Linked DNA regions of Homo sapiens. The protein of the gene in region 2 purifies or fractionates together with the protein of the main gene of each other region. This does not show direct contact. Each region holds a gene or a part of one and is shown on either strand. Other genes may lie near its edges.

Region 1 (11,308 bases), on a different chromosome or scaffold from region 2:
ACTTTGCTAAAAAGTCATTTTTTTATTAGAAAAGGAAAAAAAACTTGTCAATTCAATGCTAGACAGTTTAAGGGAAAAGAAGTTTGCATGTAAAAGAGACAGACACTTGATTTATTGCATTAAAAAACTTTATTTCTTTTAAAAGGTCCAATATAAGCCAAATTAACCCCAAAATTTACAGCTACACTTAGAGATCTCCTGAACTAAATGGCATTGTTTGAGATGAGTGTCTTGTTAAAGGAGGTCATTTGCTATTACCACCATTTCACCCAAAGTAGTTCTAGAGCAGAAGCTGGTATTATAATACACATCAGATATTTCAGATGTCATCTTTTATGTATAAGTTAAATAAAGCAAACAGGCTTTTCTACTCTGTGTGAGGATAAGAAACACTACAGAACAGGGCCTGAATGCTTTAGACATACAAGGTGTAACCATAAAGGAAATTTCTACGGTGCTGTGTTCATTCATTCAAGTAATTAATGTACTTATTCCAACAATACTGGCGTAGTTCAAATACCATTTGAGACAGTACTTTGGGGTTTCCCTTCATTGGGTGCAGACCAAAGGAAGTGGTTAAGCTGGGGGGCAGACTCTCACAGATGGATTACAAAAGTAATGAAATAGTTTTCTTAGTGGGGTGGCATTCGCAAGAACTACCTTAATGTTTTTGGTAACAGCATCATTTACATATAAGTGATGCAGGATAGAAGTTCTGGTGTATGTGATAAATTAAAAACAGCTTGTCACTTTATAGCTACACCTTGGATTTCATTAGATGTGGTAAATCTAATAGTGTGTCAAATGAGTCCTTCTGGAAATCACTTCAGCAGAGAAGTCAAACAGCCTGTAAAAGAGAAGACATGGCAGAATGTGCGAGATTCATCCTTCCAACATTCTCAGGGTTCTCTTGGAGGACAGACCCAGGCCCAAAGACAGAAGTTACCGGGAGGGAGGCTTCAACTCCATCTAAGGAAGACCTTTCTAACAGTTAGAGCTGCTCAACAACTGAATGGACTGCTTGGTGAGGTAGAGTCACTTGGAAGTGTTCAAGGTGGAAAGATCACCCTTGTAGAAGGGACTCCTGCATTTGTTAAGAGGTTAGAGACTGGATGAACCTCAGGTCTCTTTCAATTCTGAGATTCTAGAAAATTCCCTCAGGGAATTCAGAAGAGAATTCCTAAAAGGAAAGAGAAAGCACACATATGTATACTTTTAGAATCTGCTTGATTTTTTTTTTTTTCAAAAGGTACAATAGAAAATGTAGTCCACTGTCATTAAAATGCATATTCACCTTCCTACTACTAATAATTAGGAAGGGTTCATTATGACTTCTTTATATTATAAAGAAAAGATGGGGGATTAGATTTATAATTTCTGTAAATATTTTAGAAAAAATGCTTAAAATCTAGTAGTCAATGCCCTAGAAACTTTATAGATTTGTAGATAATATGCACAGATACAAATACATTATTCATTAAATACAACTCACATCTGTGTTTTATTATACTCTAAAATATACAGGAATCTTGATGTACTGAAAGAGTGCAAGTAAATACAGTATTCAAGCAGTCACTATTTCTATGTACATGCTCATTAATTCTTCAAAAAACCCACAAAATTATCAAATAGATCAAAATACTGTTCTGTGTTTTCACACTTTATATTCAGAAAAACCAGCTGATAATTTACAATGTCATAAAGTTTCCAGTTTCACAATACAAAAAGGATAAAATGAAATTGGGTATCATTTTGTTGCAATTTATAGAACTTTACCCATACCTGTAAGACCCTCAATGTATATGAAATCATTTTCACTGGGAAAGTGACAGTTACAGTAAAAGCAGAACCACACAAATCTTTATTTAAAAGCCGAAATATCAGCCTTCTCTCTCTCTTTTGCTATTTGAAAGGTAGTCTTCAATTTGGCAGGCAACTGCTTCTCTCTCCAAATAGTAACAGGTTACAAACATGCTACTTTAAATATGAATAGGACCTAAGGCTTTAGTATTTTAAATCTTGCCCAATACAGAAATGCCTTTCAAGAGACTTTAGTGATGCTTAATTTATGAACAACAAGGAATTATTTTCCTTTTGATTATTCACTTTTTCAAAACTCATAGATCAGAATAAACAAAAAATCCCCCAACCCATGGTGGGGACACAAAAGTAACATAAGTGACTAAGGTGTGCCATTCATAGAGAGGTTGAAGACTCCATGCCCCAGGACCACTTAGCTGCAATAGGGTGAAATAGTCTACTTTTTGATTTCATGAATTTTTTTCTAGGAAATTCTTTACATTTTCAAACAAAAATAGTACTATTTTAAACCCAAACCATTCAAAACAGGGCAACAGCCTGACCCCAATCCATCTCAATGTCTATGTCACAAGTATTTTCACCCGTATTGCACCCAGTCAGCTGGTTTTTAATTCTAATAGTATAAAAATTGGAAATTTGAAATAGTTCTGTAAAAGAAAAAAATGTAAAAATACATCTGCTTTCTCTCATGGTTTAATACAGCATTGGAAGGCTTTCAGATGTTTTCTTAAAAAAAAAACAAAACCCAAAAAAACTCAACATTTAAAACCAAATCTCAGCTTCATTTCCAGAAATATTGCAGTTTGGTTTAGGTAATGTTTCATTTAATCTACTCCAGTTTCCACAAAATGGCATTTTATTAAAAAAACCTTTCAGTTATTTGGTCCTTTTGCAATTTGCTGTGCACATAATGCCTACTGTACCAAACTTTTATTGCCTTTAAATTTAGTTGTAATTTTATTGATAAAATTTAAATCTAGTGTCTTTATTTCTTCTGTTACAATAGTGTTGCTTGTGTAAGCAGGTTAGAGTGCACAGTGTCCCCAATTGTTCCTGGCACTGCAAAACCAAATTAAACAATTCCACAAAGAATTCTGACATCAATGTGTTTTCCTCAGTCAGGTCTATTTCAAGATTCTAGAAGTTCCTTTTGTAAAACTTGCCTTTAAAACTCTTCCTCCTAATGCCATCAGATCTCTTAACATTGGCTCACTGTGGGATCTTTCCTCTTAGGTTGAATTTCTACGTGAATATCAAAGTGCCTTTTTCCTGAAAAAGCACAGTTTGAAGCTTTACTGTGAGAACTCCCTCCTCCTCAGCCTCTCAGTAGGTCTCAGAATCGGAGTCGTTGAGCTCATCCACGTCAGTGTATAAGTACTCCTGTTCCCCTCCAATGTTATTGAAACTGCAATAGGAGCTAGGTTCATTCCTCATGATGGGCAAAGCTTCAAAGCTGACTGTTTTTGAGGTGTTGGTATAACGGTTAATGGCATTGAATGTTAAGGATGATAAAGGACTACTTGATGAGACAGGCATCATGGTGGCCAAAATGAGAGCCAGGCAATCAGCCACATCCTTATTGGGAGCACAGGCCAAAGCTGGGGTATAGCCTAGAATTAAAGATAAAATTTAAAAATTAAGCATCCTGAGATGTATTTCACCAAAGACAAGGAAATAAGCCTAAAGTACTTCAACTTTAGACATATTTTACATTACTTAGCTTATAATAAATTGCTGTAACCAGCATGATTCGCAAGTTTCTAATAAGTAGAAAAAGAATAGCCATAGAAACCTAGGGTGGAAGGGGATGTTAGACTAGACAACAGAAGAGGAAGCAGGCCCAGAGAAGAATGATTCCCCAAGGTCTCACAACTTATCCGTATCCATCTGAATTCACAGAAAAAACTGGGCTAGAATAAGAAAAACACCACATATCGTGAATATTCTTTCAGGATGGTAGGCAGAGATTTACTGTTAATTTGCAGTTATATCAGTGTCAAGGTAAGAAAAAATAAAAAAATTTAATTTGTAGTTATGTAAGGAAACTTTTTGATGCTAAGAAATCTTAAATGTGTACAGCTTCATGAATCAGCCACAGGGCAGGTGCTCAAAAGATATGTGTTGAATGAATGACACTTAGTTGTCAATTTAACTTTTCTCTTGGGGTCACAGTCTCTTGAAGAAAAACAGTAGACAAACTAAGCAGATGAACTTTAAAAACTACTAAATCAAAACAAATATTTCCTTTGTAAATATTCCCTTTTTTTAAGCGGAAGACAACTGACCTTAGTCGTAAGTTACCACAAAGTGTCAACACAGCAAACCAAGGAGGAAACATTTGGTACCTCAGTTGGTACAAGACTCAGTCTTGAGGACGGAGCGGGAGAGAAGTGATAATAGTGTGATGCCAAGCTTCAATTATACCATATGGAACTTTAATAGTTTTATCACATAACATACATTTGTATAACCACCATACAGATTAAGAAAGAGAACATTACCAGCATACCAGAAGCCTCCATATATCCTCTACCCAGTCGTTACACCTTTCTTCTTCCACAATGGTAACTACTATCCTGACTTATGGGGTAGTAATTTCCTTGCTTTCAACTTGGAGTCATAAACACTATAGTTTTTTTTTTGTTTTTTTTTTTTTGAGACAGAGTCTGCTCGGTCACCCAAGCTGAAGTTCAGTGGTGCAAACTTGGCTCACTGCAACCTTTGCCTCCTGGGTTCAAGTGATTCACCTGCCTCAGCCTCCTGAGTAGCTGGGATTACACGTGTGTGCCACCATGACCAGCTAATTTTTTATATTTTTAGTAGAGATGGGATTTCGCTATGTTGGCCAGGCTGGTCTCAAACTCCTGGCCTCAAGTGATCTGCCTGCCTCGGCCTCCCAAATGCTGGGATTACAGATGTGAACCACCTTACCCAGCCTACAGTTTAGAGTTTTTAAAAAACTTAATATAAATGGAATCATGTAGTATGTATTATTTCATATCTGGCATTTTTGTGTAGCATTATATGAAATTTATCAATGTTGTATGTAACTGTAGTTGGTTCATTTTCATTGTTATACAGTATTTCATTGTGTGATTATACTATGGTTTAGTTATACATTTCAACTACTGGGCATCTGGTTGCTTCCAGTTCTCCCACATATTTTCATCTATGCTATATTGGCCTTGATAAAAAAAGGATTTTTTTTTTTTTTTTTGAGACAGGGTCTTGTTCTGTCACCCAGGCTGGAGTGCAGTATAATGATCATGCTCACTGCACCCTCAACCTCTGGGCTCAAGTGATCCTCCCACCTCAGCCCCCTGACTAGCTCTGACTATAGGCACATGCCATGCCTGGCTAATTTTTAAACTTTTTTGTAGATACAGGGTCTCGCTTTGTTCCCCAGGCTGGTCTCAAACTGCTGGCTTTAAGTGATCTTCCCGCCTCTGCCTCCCAAAGTGCTGGGATTATAGGAGTAAGCCACTGTGCCCAGCCACAAAAAGTAATTTTTCCCCCTTTGTAAAGTTCCCATTTTGTCAAGGGTCAAAGAGAACAACTGATGTCCTTCCAAGTTTGGCAGCAGTGGCTGAAGGCTGTCCGTATTTTTAATTAAATTTTATTTGTTCAAAGTAGCTGGGGGAGTGCTTCACTGCCCACACTTCTTTCAAGGGTTCTTCTAAAGGTGCCTGCTGCTGTTCCTGCTGCTGGCAGGCAGAACAACCCATTACATAGGCCAGGATGCCTTGGATGAGAGCGGGAGTGGGGAAAGAAGCTTGTTTCAGGTGTGTTTTCTAGTCAGAATATGACTAAAAACAGGCTCCTCTCCTCTGCATGGGGGTTATTTTTTGAGACGAAGTCTGGCTCTGTCACCCAGGCTAGAGTGCACTGGCATGATCTCGGCTCACTGCAACTTCTGCCTCCTGGGTTCAAGCGATTCTCTTGCCTCAGCCTCCCAAGTAGCTAGGATTACAGGCACATGCCACCACACCTGGCTAATTTTTGTATTTTTAGTAGAGACGGGGTTTTGCCATGTTGGCGGGGCTGGTCTCGAACTCCTGACCTCAGGTGATCCACTCGCCTTGTGCCTCCCAAAGTGCTAGGACCATAGGCATGGGCCACCATGCCCGGCCAGTTTTATCTCTTAACATGCCACTCTCTTTGCTTAGAAAGTTCCTCCCCCACTTTCTCCTTATCCTTTGGATTTTGGCTTAGCAGTTGCATTTTTTGGGATGCCTTCTCTGATCCTGCAAGAAAGGATTTGAAGACCCTCTTAAGTACTCTCATAGCATTCTATGCTTATTCCAATTAAACTATTTTAAGTGCATCGTTAATAGGCTGTTTGCACTCTTATCTCCATTCAAGGGAGTAGACTATGTCTTATTTTACACTATATCATCAGAAGTTAGTACAGTGCTTGGCATAATCACTCATGCAGCAAATATTCACTGAGCCTCCACTTGCTCAGGCACTATTTAGAACACTAAGAATATATCAGTGAATGCAACTGACAAAGATTTCACTGTTCTTGTGGAGCTTACATTCACTTTAGTGGAGAAGACACAAAATCAACATAACAAAAAAGTACATTATATACAATATGTTAAAAGCTTTATGTAAAAAAAGAGGAAAGAGTGGAGCAGGTTAACAAGGACTGAGAATGCTATGGTAGGGGTATCTAGCAAGTTGTAGTAAAGAATAGTTAGAATATGCTTCATTGAGAAGATGAAACTGGAGCTAAGATTTGAAACAGGTGACGAATTTAGTCATGGGATGTTTGGGGACAGAGTGTTCAGGCAGAGTAAACAGCCAGAATGAAGATCACAATGCATGTATAACCCTGCTATGGAGGGGCTGGCATGGCAGAATGAAGTAGAGAAAGGAGAAGAGTAGGAAATAATATCAGAAAGGTAACAAGGTGGAGGACACATCATGTAGGGCCTAGTAAGGTCATTTTAAGAACTATGAGTGGGGCCAGGTGGAGCACTCTGGGAGGCTGAGGTGGGGGGATTGCTTGAGGCCAGGAGTTCAAGACCGGCCTGGACAATATAGTGAGAGTCTGTCAGCACAAAAAATAAATTAGCTAGGCCTGGTGATGCATACTTATAGTGCTAGCTACTTGGGAGGCTGAGGTGAGAGGTTCTCTTGAGCCCAGGAGTTCAAGGTTACAATCAGCTATGATCTCACCACTGTACTCTAGTCTGGGCAACAGAGTGAGACCCTGCCTCTTCAAAAAAAAAAAAAAAAAAAAAAAAGAAGAAGAACCGAAATTCAAGAGTAACATGTTCTCATATACTTTAAAAGGATCCAGGTCAGTCTGGTAGCAGTAAAGAAAAAAGTGGGCATACTTTAGATCTACTTTAGAGGTGGAGTCAATAGTATATGCTGATGGACTATACATTGAGTATGAGTGAGAGGAATCAAGGATGACTCTAGGGGTTTTGCCCTGAGCCACTGTTAAGAATGAGAATTGTCTTCAATGGAGAGAGCATGATGCTGTGGGGAGAGTAGGTCTGGCAAGGGGAGTGGGAAAGGATCAACAGTTCAGTTCTGCACATTCTAGGTTTAAGCTGTTTATCAGACATCCACATGGATGTGTCAATTAGGCACGTGGATATATAGAGACTGTGAGAAGTCTGGGCTGGAGATATAAATCTGGGAATCCTCAGCATTATAGGTAGTATTTAAAACCAAAGGAACTGATGAGAGCACTAGGGAGTCAATGTAGATAGAGAAAGCAAAAAGAACGAAGAATTGAGTCCTAGAAGAAGAGGGAGAAATTTTGTAAAAGAAATTAAGAAGGAATAACTAGTAATGTAGAAGGAAAACCAAGGAAGAGTGGGGTTCAAAAAGCAGAGTAAAAAAATTTATCAAAGGAAACGATCAGTTGTGCCAAAAGCTGATCTATCAAGTAAAATGAGAGCTAAGTAGTAGTTAACACAGTAGAAGTCATTGGTGGTTTTGATGGGAACAGTTTTGCTATGTGTAGGGGTGAGGGGGAGAAGGCCTGACTATACGGAAATTAAGAGAGAATGGAAGAATGAGGCTGGACGCTGTGGCTCACACCTGTAATCCCAGCAATTTGGGAGGCCAAGGCAGGCAGATCACCTGAGGTCAGGGGTTTGAGACCAGCCTGGCCAATATGGTGAAACTCCGTCTCTACTAAAAATACAAAATTTAGCCAGGCGTCGTGGCAGGTGTCAGTAATCCCAGCTACCTGGGCAGGCTGAGGCATGAGAATCGCTTGAACCCAGGAGGCGGAGGTTGCAGTAAGCCGAGATCATGGCACTGCACTCCAGCCTGGGCAACAGAGCTAGACTCCGTCTCAAAAACAAACAACAACAACAACAACAAAAGAATGGAAGAATGAGAGGAATAACTGCGGACAGCAAGAGAGTAGTTTTGCTGCAAAAGGGGACAGAGAAATATGGCAGTAGCTGGCAGGAGCAGTGAGATTTATAAATTATTTTTTAAGGATGAGGGAACTAATGTTTATATACTGAGAGGAATAATACAGGAAGAGAGCGAAAAATGTTACTCCAGGACACAAAAGAGAACTGTCAAACTGACATTATGAAGTAGGCAAAAGGGGACAGGATCTAGTGCATGAGTAGAAACACTGGCTTTAAATAAGAATATTAGTACTTAACTAGGATCTTGATACATATTTGCTGAAAGAACAAAATCTTTGGCTACTAAAACAACAGAAAGTGGCAAGTATAAACAGTAAATACTAACTTTGCTGTAACAGATGATATAGGAATTCGGAAGTACATCTGTTAGATAACTTTTCCTATTTCTTTTGCCCTTATTCCTTTGCCACAAACTACTCTTCAATATTAACTTTAGCTCTCCTCTTTGACCAATAAAAAATATCCAAGTTTATTTCTCTTCAAATATGGATCAAAAGATAAAAGCTCTAGGTTAAGGGAAGAGAATATAGAACCAACTTACCATTTTCATCTACTGCAAGCACACTTGCTCCTTTTCCCAAAAGTTCCTGAACCACCATTGTTAGCCCATTTCGGGCAGCAACATGCAGAGGTCTAGGGGAAAAAACATGATACATGTACACATATGTGCATGTGCATGCACATACACATACACACCTGGCTGTCAAAGAGCATTTTTGTCAACTTGTGAAGACCAAGAGGTACAAACTCGAGAAACCTAGTCCTAATAACAAAGATGGGGGCAGGGAGAGCAGAACCTCTGTGCAGTGCACTGTCACACCTTGTCAACGTGTAGCTCGGCATCAAGCTCAGCCATAGGTCCCATCGACAGGTCCCTACCTTCACCCAATCCTTTTGTTACTTTTCTTTTCAATGTTTAAAAACATTTTACCATTGAAATTGCATTCCTCCGTTGTTAAGGAATGAGGCTGGTAAAGATACAGACTATACATTAAAAACTGTAAACTGCAGTAGCATAAATTCTAATAGGCTTTGAAAACAGCTTACAAGCATCATGACTAATTTTTGGACCTTCAAGGGATCTGACTAATCCCAGAACGGGCAACAATATTCTAAGATTTTTATCTTTACTAAACCTCAAAATGGAATAGCAAGGGACAATGAGAGACACTGATGTAAGATCTCTGTCAGTCTATCTGGAGGTTGGCTGCTCACATTATTAAAAATTTTGATTCTTTAAGAAACCTTATTGGCTTACAGACACACATAAAGCTTCTTACCTCATTTATTGTTAGTTTCAAGTAACATATTATTACAGTTGATTTCCACAGAATACACAAAATAGTACTACTTTCCTTCAGAAAATTAGGTAGGTGGATTAAGGAAAAAAATACATTATTGTCAATGTTATAATAAAATTTCAGTTCAAAAGCATTTTAAATAATATGGCTTTTAGTTGTGATCATTTTAGAAATGAGTTTTGACAGTTGTAAAACTATTAAAATTGCTTCTATGACTAATGAAACCTATTCCAATAGTCACATGTTTAAAAAAATCCATTTATCATTTTTATAATTATAGGTCACAAAGTTTATACTAGATACTGACAGTACTCACGTTTGCAAGGCTGCGTTGGTTGCATTGATGAGGTTTCTATCTGTTATCTTTTCCAGTATTAACAAGGCACTAGTTTCATGACCCTATAATTGTGGCAGATAAGTTATAAAAACTTGAGCACCATTAAAGATACATTTATACACCCAACAATCTGCAATCCTAGTCCATATATTATGTACAACACCATACATATACCATGAATTTTCCTGGCTAATATCTTAATATTTGCCCAAACACATCTTGGGAGTGAGGGTAGGAGAAGAGGACAAAATTAAGATTAAGGAAAGAGGATAATTATGCTTAGACTTGTGTTCCAAAACTTATTTGGCTTACTGGAGACTTTGATACGCCATGGTGCCTTATAAGTCAATTTTGTTCAAGAAATCTAATACCAGTGATCATTAGAGAGGTTTGGTCCTGAGTTGTTCATTTTAGTGAAGTCAAAAAACTTTTAAGGTCACTGTTAATATTAACAATGGAAACATATTCTTAAGATGTATACATACCTTGCTACAAGCCAAATGGAGGGCAGTATTTTTACTGTTATCTTGTAAAGTCAGTTCTGCACTAGCACTGCTAACCAGCATCTCTGGGAGGAAAAAGTGCATCAATTCTTATGTTTATGAACATGTTTCTTAGATTACCAATAACTCACTGTAGAGAAATGAAGATACAAAGCAAAAAAGTCCCTCTCACAAAAACTTAAGTACAAGAAAAATATTGTAATATATAACATATATATCTTCATATAATTGTATGAGACAATTATATTGTTGTATAAGTCACACACTCTAACAATGGCAATTAACATTTATTTTGTGACTGTGCACTAAATTTTAAATACTGTTTTATATGCTCTGGATTTAAAGTAATTTATTTAACCCTCACAACAACACACCAAGTAGATACTGTTATTTTTCTCATTTTATAAATGAGAAAACTGAGGCATAAGGTCATTTAGCTGAAAGATCTAGGACTCACATTCAGGCAATCCAACTCCACAGCCAGTGTTCTTAACCACTATGTTATAAGGCCATGGTAAAGTAGACTCCTCAATAGTCAGGGCAAACTAAAACATTGTATCCCTAAATGAAAATGTGGATTGCAAACAGGTAAAAGGTTTTAAGTCTTAGGAGTGGTAAGATAACTAGTTGAAGTCAGAAGTCTTGGGATCTAAGTTATACATAAGTGATACACATACTTAGGAAAATACAATTTTAAAGAAGTTTCTTTACCAACTGTATTTGTTTGTCCATTTTCTGCAGCCATCATAAGAGGTGTTTTCCCTGTAGAGTCCACAGAATTGACTTGAGCATTATGGCTGAGCAGCAGCTGTAAACACTCTACATGGTCTGTGAAGGCGGCTGCATGGAGAGGAGTTCTGTGATAAAGAAAAATTGAAATATATGACTAAATTTGAATGTTATATATGCTGGAAAAATATTCTTTAATTTGTGACA
Region 2 (11,192 bases):
GCAATAAACGTGTTGCTTAGAACCACTAAATTTGCAGTCATTTGTGAATAAGCAGCTTAGAAAACGAATAAAATCAGAACCTAAGGTATTTCTGAACCCTTTGTTCACAAAAAGGCCTATGTTTTGTCCAATTTCTTAACAAATAAATGTCATGTACATGCAAAATTAAAACACAGACTAACATTTCAAATAACAGTTCTTAAGAATATTCACATAAAACTTAGGAAGTAATTTGCTACATAAAGCAGTTCCTACACTCTCTTTTAACACATTTGCCAATATACCCAATTATACATAATACTACATGTAATAAGTTTAATATTAGGGCAATTCTCCTTAAAACCCAAATAATAATAAATAGTTTAAAAGTTGATATCTCATTAATGATATTTGGTAATCAGAAGAACTTAGTTACTGGTCACCAGGCAAAGCGATCAAATTGGAGGAGAGCAAGAGACTTGTTGGAGATGTGCCTGAGGGAGTAAGACACTATCTTACAACAACAGGGCTCTTACTCCCTCAGGCACTGCACCAGCCAGCAAAGCATCAAAATACCAGGTTCTTAGGTCACGCTGCTCTCAGATCAGGTGATGCCCTGTGCAACTCACCAATCCTCCCCACCTTGCAGTCAAGAATAATTCCAAAAAATTCCCAAAGCAGAAACTTCCATGACACAGGCCACACTTACACACAGCAAAACATGTAACACGAAGGTATGAAATTACAAGTGAGGAACAATAACCACCAAAATTCTTATTACTTCAGGAGTGGCAGGGGTTGTGGTTAGAAGGCTCATTTTTCTTAGAAAGAGGCAAACATTCCTCTTCGGCCACTCCCCATAAAAGCCTTCAATGGCACAAAATAACATTCAGGAATAGGAAATAGATTAATTACAATATCCCAAATTCAAACATTTTGGCACTTGATATTGGTAAGAAGTGATAACTGAGACCGATTCCATAATGGTTAATTGATGAAGATAACCTAACACCATAAAACTTCACATCTGCCTTAAAAATTAAGAGAAATCTTCCTAGAAATACAGGTCTTATTCAACATATTCAGTTTTAAGAGATAACCCACACTCCTTCAATATAAGAAAACATGTTTCACAAGTAGCAAGGCACCTGAGTTACAATCAGACTACTGAAATACTCATGAGCAAGCCACACCCAAAAAAGCTCAAGAAAATCAGGAGGCCAAAAGCAACCCAGCACCACTGGTTGTCTTAGATTAAGTCATTTTACATTTTCACTTCTGGACTCAAGGATACATTATAGAAGTCCACACGATTTCTCTGGAAATAATCTCCATGTATTGGTATATTTCTATAGCCCAATTCATCTACCCCATCCTTGCTGCATCATTAAAGGCTATTTGACCACTCATATTATGCTCTTATGAACAACAGCTACTTGACAGTGGAAAAAAAAACGTAGACGTAAATTAAAGCCAAACAAACCCTAAAATACCATCAACATTTTTAAATATTAGGAAATACCCTTAAGACCTGTTTTAAAACAAAGGTGATGGACGACACTAGCAGTAGTCAAGAAAGCGTCTGTTCACTTTAACACTCCTCAGTCTGAAAAGAATAATAAGGACAAGATTTACTTCACCTAAAAACTCCTATATAAATATAATCACATTCTGATGTCTGGCAACTCAATTCTAGGAAATTTCTACACACTGAAATATCTGGATTAGGCATTTTTCTTCCAGTTCTCTAGAGAGAATAAGAGTGTATATAGCCAAAACAGATGTCCAAATGACATCAAAACATAAAACCAACACAGAAAACTTCCTCGTTCAATGTGGCAATTCATTATGAGAGAACTACTAACAATTCCACTTGCTAGACTCTTAAGTGTTAAAAATAAAAGGGGGGGACTGTTTTTCATTTTCTATAAATTACATGAGAGCTCACAAGAGAATAATTTTGAATCTTATTAGTACCACATTTTCTTATTAGGAGACGTTAATAATATAAACAACAATTAAAACAACAGTTTTACAAAAAACAATACGAACTTTCCACTAATTCTGAAATAATCCTTTTATCAATTTTCAGATGCAGTTATTTGTATATAACCATTTATACAATTTGTAACTGAATAAACACAATAATGTTATAATAGATACTAAAAAGTTAAGTAAATGTGAACTAGTCAAGTCTTTTTTAATTATAAGATTCTTCATTTAGCTCCCTAAATCTCAAGATGATGAGAAACATGCTTCTATTGTTTTCCTAATAACCCGTCCACTAAAATATAGGTAAAAATCTCAGTAAGGCAATGCCACTAAGATGGGTTTTTACGTAAATGTATTCCATCTCCCTGCCTCAACAGAGATTTCAGGATGTGGCACTTTCATCTGATCCTGTCATATAATAAGAACAGGTAATTTCTCTGATGTCTTTCCAGCAATTCTCAACTGAGGTTCCTCATCTGAATCACCAAACACAGGAAATTATTTCAGTGACTTTTCTCAATTGTTCCAAGAATGATACATAACTAAAACCGTTCTAAATGCACTGGAGCTAAAAGTTAAAATTCATTGCACACTACGGCACAATTGTCTCCAGAAAGCCGGGTGAGAAAGGCTGCTGTAAGTTCCTCAGAAAGTGTCACTGTACTACTAGGCCCCAGTCACCCAACCCCAACAGCACTAAAAGAACTATAATGAGTGCACAAATCTAGAACTTAGATAAGAAAAAAGATAAATGCTTTATCTCCAACTTTAAGCAACTAGGTATTTTTACTTACTAGGAATAGCATGGGGCTCAACTGTCTCTTGCTCTGAATAGAATGCATTTACTTAACAAAATAAACCCACAGAACTATAATGTTTCTCAAAGGGAATTATCAGCTCTTAGAAAATGAATTTTTAGAAATCAGCATATTAAATAAATATTAACTATTAACTTGACAAGGCTTTTCCTATTCACCCTTCTTTAGCAAACTTAAATATTCATCTTCTAATAATTGCTAAATGCAAATTTTCACTTTAAAAAGATAATGATAAACATTAAAAACCAGTTTGCCCTTCATTCTCGCACTAATCACCAATTCTCAGAAACTGCCTTTTATATTCTTCAGTGCGGACTACAGCAACTTCAACTGTTAGGTTAGTTGTGATCAAATCACTTTAAGGACACCAGTAGAGTTCTTTTACTCAAAATCAAAAGCAAATGACTTTTAAAAATAGCCCAATTTTAAGAGGGATGAATATTTTTAAGAAGCAAAAATTACTTTAAAACAAGGTAGCTAATTAAAAGTCAAGCGTCGTTCCAATTGAATTTGCAAAGCGTTACTAAAAAAATGGGAAAAATGAAACATGACATTCCTGTTTTTAATTTATGCTGGCGTGTGTGCTGATAGTACAGAACATGAGAACGGATAAATTACTACGTATTCCACTTTACTAAGTCTCCAAAGTTCCTACGTTTACAAATATATAAGTAAAAGCGGCACAAAAATGTAGGGGATCGTGTTTTCGCTGCTCATCTGTGCTCAGTTGCTAATTTTTCTAATACCAGATACATAATGCGATGAAATGGGAATGCTTATCTTCTATACTTCTATTTATTTTCATAAAGGGGAGAGGGGAGGTGGTCTTGATTCATTTACTATTAGCGTTTTGCAATAAAGTAGATCAGCATAAAACATAACTGAAGAAGTAGGATTCATTTTCCCCAGGACAACGCACACTTCCTCCTGTTTCTGTAGTAAAGTACATCACTTTGCTATTAAAAATGTCCATTTTTCACAACTGACTTTTCCTTAACTCTAGTCAACACTGCTCTTCAAAAGAACCTAGCCAATTATTGTACCTTGAAGACAGATGTGCAAAATTTTTACTTCCTTAAGAAACTTTTCCATTTTTTAAATGCTTTCCAAATTAAGCAGGACTCACATTAACTGTGATCTTAAGTAGCAGTTTAGTGAGGTTTAAAAACAAACTTTTCATTAACGCATTCATCCAATTAAAATGACATAGTAACTGGGACTACTGACACAGATTTCAGGATTACAGCTTTATACTAAAAGTCGGTCCAAACATGGTAACTCAGTGTTCATTTGAGACGCTTTGACTTTTGGCCTTTAAAAACTGTTCCCCACTCGAGTCCCCAGATAGAACTACATTTAGCAACTGGTCTCCTCCTGACTTCCTGGTACTAAAAACCACAACCACAAGGGCTGTTTCGTCGGTTTGTTGTAAAACAACATTTGCTCCAGTCATCTCACTGGAAAATAGACTTTCTCTACTGGGCAGCCGCTGAGGTGAGGGTGCTCAGGATGTTTAAAAACAAAACCACGCGTCTATGCGGTAGCGGCACCGCCGGTGTTAAGCGCCGGGTTTCTTCCAGGATGGAGACCGACGCGGGCTGGTCCGGGAGGCAGCCCCCGGCGCCCCGGCAGAAGGAGAAAAGGAGAAGGGTAAAAATAGCCGGCGGCCACGGCCCACGTGCAGCCGCGGGAGGACCGAGCGCGGGTGCGCGGAGAGGGGTCCGTACCTCCAAACATGTGCGGCGAGAGGTGAGCTGGTAAGGAGCCGATCACCAGGCGCGGCCCGCCGGGGCTCCCGCCCACCGGCCGGTCCCGGCCGCCGCCGCCGTCCTCAGGGCTGCTGTGCACCGAGTCCTGCGAGCCGTACGGGCCGCTGCTGCTGTTCGGGATGCTGAAGGGGGACTGCGCCGCGCGGGCCCCCGACGCCACGCTCCCCACGGCCCCGCCGAGGGAGCGGCTGCGCGGGGCCGCCGGGGCTGCCGGGGCCGCCGCGGCCGCCGCGGCGCCGCCGGAGGCGCTGGGCTGGTGCGCGCTGGGCACCTGAGCCGGGAACCTCCCCGCGGCGGCGGCCCGAGCGCCCCCGCCGCCGCCCGCGGTCCCATTGGCGCCTCCGCTGCTACTGGAAGGTAGATCCGAGCCCGAGTACGCGCGCGTGCGGCCGTTAGCGGCGGCCGGGCCGCTCTGTTTGGCGCCCATGTCCGCCCTGCCCCGGGCCGGGCCCGCGCGCTGCGCCCCGAGAGCCGGGAGGGCGGGAGCGAGCGCGGGAGCTAGAGGGCAGGGCCCAGGCGCCGCGGCCGGCCCAGAGAGGCCCCCGCACGTCCAGGGCCGCCGCCCGGCGTCCAGAGGGGCAGTCGGCGCCCGGCGCGCTCTTCTTGGGGCGGCGGGCGAGGCCGACGGCCTGACGCGGGCGCGGGAGACGAGGAGACGCGGAGAGGAAGGGGTCCCGGCTGCAGGCACCCCTCGCTGGCTCCAGCAGGAAGGGGCGGCTCAAGTGGCCGTGCGGCTGCCGCTGGTTTCGGTTCTGGTGCGCCACGACGGGCCGCTACCGCTCTCTGCTGCCGCGCTCGGCGCCCCCGATCTCGGCACCGCCTCCTCTCGGGCGGCCGCTGCTACCGCCGCCATCCTCCGGCTCCCACGGCGGCTGGCGGCTGAGTGGGAGGCGCCCGCCCAGACTCCGCCGGGGCCACCTTCCCTCCTCCCCCAGCCACCCAGCTGTTATTAACGGAGAAAGAGGAAAAACGGGTGGCGCGCGAGGGGAGAACGAAAAATGGGAGGGAGAGGTGGCGCGCGCTTCCCGGCAACCGTCGCCTCGCTCCCCCTGCGAAGGAGGGGCCGGGCTGGCGGGAGGATCTGGGCCGCGAAGGCGGGGGGTGCGCAGATGGGGAGGAGGTTCCCCGGCCCCGCGCCGGAAGGCCGCGGAGCGGCGCGGCTGCAGGGTGCGCCCGGCCCGTGTGTTTGGGTCGCGCGCGTTGACCCCGCCCCCGCCCCCTCGTGCCGCCAGGCCGATTGGCTCCCGCCGGCCTTGCTCCGCCTCCCCCTTCCGCGACCTGCCTGCCCCTGCTCCGCCTCGCCAAGGTACTGCGGTGTGGTAGGTGCTGCCACTCGTGGACTCGGTGATGGACAGGTCTCTGGCCACGCCCTCCCAGCCAGGGCGCGCCCTTGTCTTCCTCGCGGGGCCTACGCCGATAGGAGGAACGGACACCGGGCGCCAACCAGAAGGCGGCCCCTCCTCCCGCACGTGGCCCGCCGACGCTGTAGGAGCCTGTGTCAGCTGCAGCTTTTCCTGGCAGGGGGCGTGAATGGCTGTGTCCTCTGCCCAGAGCCGTTTGGTTTCGGTGGGTGTTGGTGTTACACACTGATTAAAAAAAAAAACAGAAGCTCAAAAGCCAGCTTGATCTCAGACTTACTCATGAAACACCAACCTGGGAGGAAGCGCAGAGTTGGAAGAACTCGGGATAATCCAGGTTGACCCTCTGTGGTAGGGCAAATACTGTGGTGCCAGGAACGCTGCACCTGACTCACAAAACCTAGAATCTAGGCCCAACACCAAACTAAATTATCTGTAGTGAGCAAATTATTTTACTTTTTTGGACTTTAGGTTTATTTTTGTTTTTGTTTTTGAGACGGAGTCTCGCTCAGTCACCCAGGCTGGAGTGCAATGGTGTGATCTCGGCTCACTGCAACCTCCGCCTCCCGAGTTCGAGCGATTCTCCTGCCTCATCCTCCAGAGTAGCTGGGATTACAGGCACGTGCCACCACGCCTGGCTAATTTTTGTATTTTTAGTAGAGACGGTCTTTCACCATGTTGGCCAGGCTAGTCTTGAACTCCTGTCCTCAAGTGATCCACCTGCCTCGGCCTTCCAAAGTGCTGGGATTACAGGCGTGACGTACCGCACCAGGCCGACTTTAGGTTTCTTACCTGAACTGTTTGTGTTAAATCCTAGGGCACCTGCCTCTTTAAAATCCTATAACTTCTCTAAAATGTAATAAAATTCTCCTCAGTGCCTTCCTCAGTGTTGGTGTGGTCTCTTCACGGCAGAGCAGGGTCTGGATACCCAGGGAACAGCCTGCTCTGAGACTCCCATTATGAAAATGTCTAGTCTCTACTTGAAAATAATAATAGCAAGTGGTGTTTTATAAAACTACAGAAATACTTTGTCATCTTTTCACTATTTGCAATAAGTCATTTATGTAATGATTTTCATCACTCTTAGGGTATGGGAATCAAGTTTTTAAACAAATGGAGAATATATGTATACATATAAAGACGTGTATCTGTGTACACAAACACACATATATACATGGAAAAACAAAGGTACCCAGTGCTTTATATGCAGTATCATGTTAAGATATGGTCATCATTTTGGTTAAGTGCCCTCTCCTTATAGATGTTTCCTGCCACCTCCTCCCCCATCCCAGCATCACAGACTGACTTCAGTGTTCCCACTCAGTGCTGTACAATACCTCCTTCATAGCTCTGATCATGTTATTATTATTATTAGATATCTTGCTTGTCACTACTCAATTGGCTCCATGATAAACTTCATGTCTGTACCTCCAGTGTTTAACACAGTGTCTGGTCTTGCCATGGTGCAATAAATGTTTTGTGAATGAATGAATGAATGAGTGAGTGAATACATGTATCCTCACCAGTTGTACTAAAACGATTCTTTCTTGAATGTCACTCATTAACTTATCATGTTCTTATTCTCCTTGACATTTCGCTTGTGGTGGGTGCCCCTTCCACCTCCTCTCTGGTGAGCCTTGTTTCTTTCCCCACGAAGGTTCTGGAGATAAAATGCTGGCCTTCTATGTTCTTTCCTTGGCCTTCTTTCCTCTCTCCTCACCCCTCTCATCTCTCTCCAGTCACCAGCATGAAGCTGTCAATGTGTGTTATTGTCAACCAAACAGTTCTGACTTCGTTGAAAATGTGTCGCTTATTTATTTATTTATTTATTTGAGACAGAGTCTCGCTCTGTCACCAGGCTGGAGTGCAGTGGTGCGATCTGGGCTCACTGCAACCTCTGCCTCCCAGGTTCAAGCAATTCTCCTGCCTCAGCCTCCAGAGTAGCTGGGTTACAGGCACGTGCCACCATGCCCAGCTCATTTTTTCGTACTTTTAGTAGAGACAGGGTTTCACCATGTTGGCCAGGATGGTCTCTAACTCCAGAACTTGTGATCCACCCGCCTCGGCTTCCCAAAATGCTGGGATTACAGGCGTGAGCCACCATGCCTGGCCATCACGTCTTTAGTATACCTACCAGTTCTTCAAAAATTAAAAGTGCTGCTTCATCCAAATGAGTACACACAGGTATACACACATGTAGAACTGCAACGGGTTTTTGAGATAATACCCATGCTACCTGAAATGCACTCTGCTTTCTATTTGACTTCACTTTTGTAAAATGCTGGTCACTGCTTATTGGATTGATTTTACACCCCCCTATGGGGATGTAATCTGCACTTTGATAAACAGTAGTCTAAATCAGTGCTTTGCAAACTTTAGCACACACAAGGATTACAGGAAAACCTTGTTAAAACAGGCTGTTGGGCCCCACCCTCAATGATTCTCATTCCATAGCTCAGGGTTGGGCCTGGAGAATTTGCATCCTAACAAGCTGCCCAGTGATGTTGCTGCCATCAGACTTCGGACTCTTGTTTGGAGAAGCACTGGTCTAAATGACGCTTTCCTCTACAATCAGAACTGTTGTTTTAATGCCTTCACCACTTATCAAGAGACCAGAGCCCCAGCTCTTTAAAATTTTTCAAATTTGAAGGTTTTAAAATACACTATATTCCTCCTGATGCAGTTCAATGATATTTTGACCAAAGGCTTTGGGGGTGCAAAATTAGTCTGAATGTATTGTTAAAGCACTTCACATTGACAAAATTATTGTCCACAAACTCACACTGGAACAGGTAAGCTACTTCTGGGCTTTCAATAAAAATGCCTGACCAATCAGTTTGTTGTTGTCTAGTTTGAAGTTTAGTTGGGGCAAGCCTCTTCCCTTTGTGTTCCCTTACTCTCCTTTGCATTCCTCTTTCCTCTCTTGGTTTCTCTTTTAAAACTCTGCTGGATCAGACCTTTGATGTGTGGGACAGCAAATTTGCATAGTGACACCCATTAGTCCTCTTGGTCGGGGACCACAGCCTCTCTACAGGGCTGTCCTGCAGCCAGCAGTAGCCCTACACATTTTGCTAAGGTTTTGCCATCCCACTTTTCCCCTTGTTATAGGATTTAAGAGATGGTTATGGCTTTGCTTTTTTTTTTTTTCAAGTAAGTGTTCATACACTACCTCATCTCTACCAAAATAGGACTATATGTATAATTGCCTATTTTTAAATAGGCCTATTTTCCTATTATTTTGCTTTTTAAAGAAACAAATGGACCATCTAAACATTAAAATGAATCTTAATACATCCTACATATGTGTTAATACATCCTACATACACTGTCCAAGATCTTAGTGGTGATTAGAAACTTACATCTTAAATTCAAAATCTTAGTTTGTAGTATTTAGGAGTCACATTGTTGGGTAATTGTTCAGAAAACATCAAAAGTTTATGTAATGTCTTTAACAAATTTTTATCCTCCCTCCCCTGTACTTGTATTAGTTTTTTAATGAGAAGCAAAAGACAAGAGCCAATCATGACAGGATTAAAAGTACATGCCGTGAAGTGGTTGAGCTCAAGCTGGGGTTAGGCCCTGGCTTTGTCTGACACTGGCTGTGGGATTTAGGGCAAGCCACTTAACCTGGCTAAACCTGTTCCTTCTGTAAAACATGGATGATCATATAGCAATACCAGTCTCACAGAGTGGCTATGATTCTCAAAAGATTCATTCTCTATTTGAGAGTACTTTCAAATGTGTTAATAGAGAAACAAATTTTAATCTCAATGTTATTATCCCTAGCAGATTGTAATAATTTCCATATCATCTCTAGCATGTTGTGACATTGTACAGTTTAATATATACTAATACTCAATGAAATTGATTTTACCATTTTGTGAAATTTTAATACATTATTGATGCATAAGGATGTATTGGTAATAATTCGTTAGTAGTAGTTTACTAATAAGTATTTACATCACTGCTATAATAATGATGATAGTATGATATGTCATGACACATCTATATCTTTCCACCATGGGATGGATGGATGTGTGTGTGTGTGTGTGTGTGTGTGTGTGTGTGTGTACATATACTCATAGATAGCTAGATAGATGAAATTTGAAAGGAAATTATCATTAAGATATCAGAGACTACCTATTTGAAATCTCCAATATTTAAACTCTTAAACATTTTTTTTCTTTTGATTCCACAGGGTAGTTAACACTTTGACTAAAGAGTCTTTGGGTCCTAAATAGACTTAAATGTGTCACAAAAGTATTTCATGTTAATTAATCAATGACTGGAGCCCTATGGCTATGTTTAACATAGATTCCAGAATCATTTTCCTTTCTAAAAACAGCTTGAGATATAATGTCAGCACCTGCTAATAAAAATAATTTTTGCTTGCCAAAATGGTATGTAGTATTACTAAGAGCTTAAATATTTATATTGTGTTCTATTCTCAATTAATTCACTTGGGCTTTCAAACGTTGTTTTTTTTTTTATCTGTAAGAGCCCTAATTTAAAAACCCTTAATACCAACCAACCACAACCCATGATGCTTTTACTCCATTATAAAGGAAACTCTCAGATTCCATACATAGTGTTTTGAAAGGAATCCAAGATCTTTACTGGGGACATACTGTTGAAAAGACATAAAATTTAGTGGAAAAATGTATCATGGGGTCGGTACCAAGGGGATTTTCCCAGCCTACGGAAGTGAAGACTAGCTTGGAGAAAAAATAGCCCTCTGCTACATAATGCATGTGGTCCCTCCTCCAGTGCAGATGCACCCTCCAAACTGCCTCCTGTCACTTGCTTAAATCATGAATACTGTACGTGAATGACTGTTGTACATGAATGATTAAAACGTATTATAAGACATTTTCCCTTACCACTTCCTCCCTCAAAGTTAGTCAAAAGCCCCCGTAAAGGCAAGCCCTACATTTTAGGACTAGATTGTTTAAGCCTCCCAAGTACAGGAACTCTATTTCTGCTTTATTTTTAACTCTCCAGAGTGCCTGCTTATAGAGAGCTCAAGGACAATCTATATGCAAGAGACTTTGAGTAACAGCTATGGCTCGCTAAGGACAGGCAGCAGTGATTAATGCATGTCCGGAATTACTACCAACTTAACAGACTGTCGTCACCACATTAAGTTTGTGTGTGAAGTTGGCTGCCTTCTACACTGTTCAGCCAGGGCAAGTTTGTGCATTAGGGGGCCAATTCCCTTTGAGTTGCTATTGAATGATCTACGCCCCCAAGTTAGGCCAGGTTGGAAAGGGTAAGGT

Evidence for each region.
Region 1: the proteins of ZNRF2 (region 2) and ANKRD28 purify together in Homo sapiens (affinity purification with western blotting; 2 studies listed by BioGRID and IntAct, with this or other methods). This does not show direct contact.

What each region holds. Positions count from the first base shown.
Region 1 is NC_000003.12:15,667,126-15,678,433, forward strand, and holds the end of ANKRD28 (serine/threonine-protein phosphatase 6 regulatory ankyrin repeat subunit A), read right to left. Parts: intron 11,230-11,308; coding exon 11,084-11,229; intron 10,503-11,083; coding exon of another isoform or gene 10,489-10,502; exon of another isoform or gene 10,438-10,488; coding exon 10,355-10,437; intron 9,932-10,354; coding exon 9,849-9,931; coding exon of another isoform or gene 9,845-9,848; intron 8,865-9,844; coding exon 8,773-8,864; intron 6,066-8,772; coding exon of another isoform or gene 5,956-6,065; exon of another isoform or gene 4,509-5,955; coding exon of another isoform or gene 4,485-4,508; exon of another isoform or gene 4,235-4,484; intron 3,432-4,234; coding exon 3,145-3,431; 3' UTR 1,117-3,144; coding exon of another isoform or gene 904-1,116; 3' UTR 111-903; downstream 1-110. UniProt on the Homo sapiens protein: Regulatory subunit of protein phosphatase 6 (PP6) that may be involved in the recognition of phosphoprotein substrates. Involved in the PP6-mediated dephosphorylation of NFKBIE opposing its degradation in response to TNF-alpha.
Region 2 is NC_000007.14:30,279,151-30,290,342, reverse strand, and holds the start of ZNRF2 (E3 ubiquitin-protein ligase ZNRF2), read right to left. Parts: upstream 5,747-11,192; 5' UTR 4,986-5,746; coding exon 4,517-4,985; intron 4,284-4,516; exon of another isoform or gene 4,258-4,283; intron 1,586-4,257; exon of another isoform or gene 1,511-1,585; intron 550-1,510; exon of another isoform or gene 453-549; intron 1-452. UniProt on the Homo sapiens protein: E3 ubiquitin-protein ligase that plays a role in the establishment and maintenance of neuronal transmission and plasticity. Ubiquitinates the Na(+)/K(+) ATPase alpha-1 subunit/ATP1A1 and thereby influences its endocytosis and/or degradation.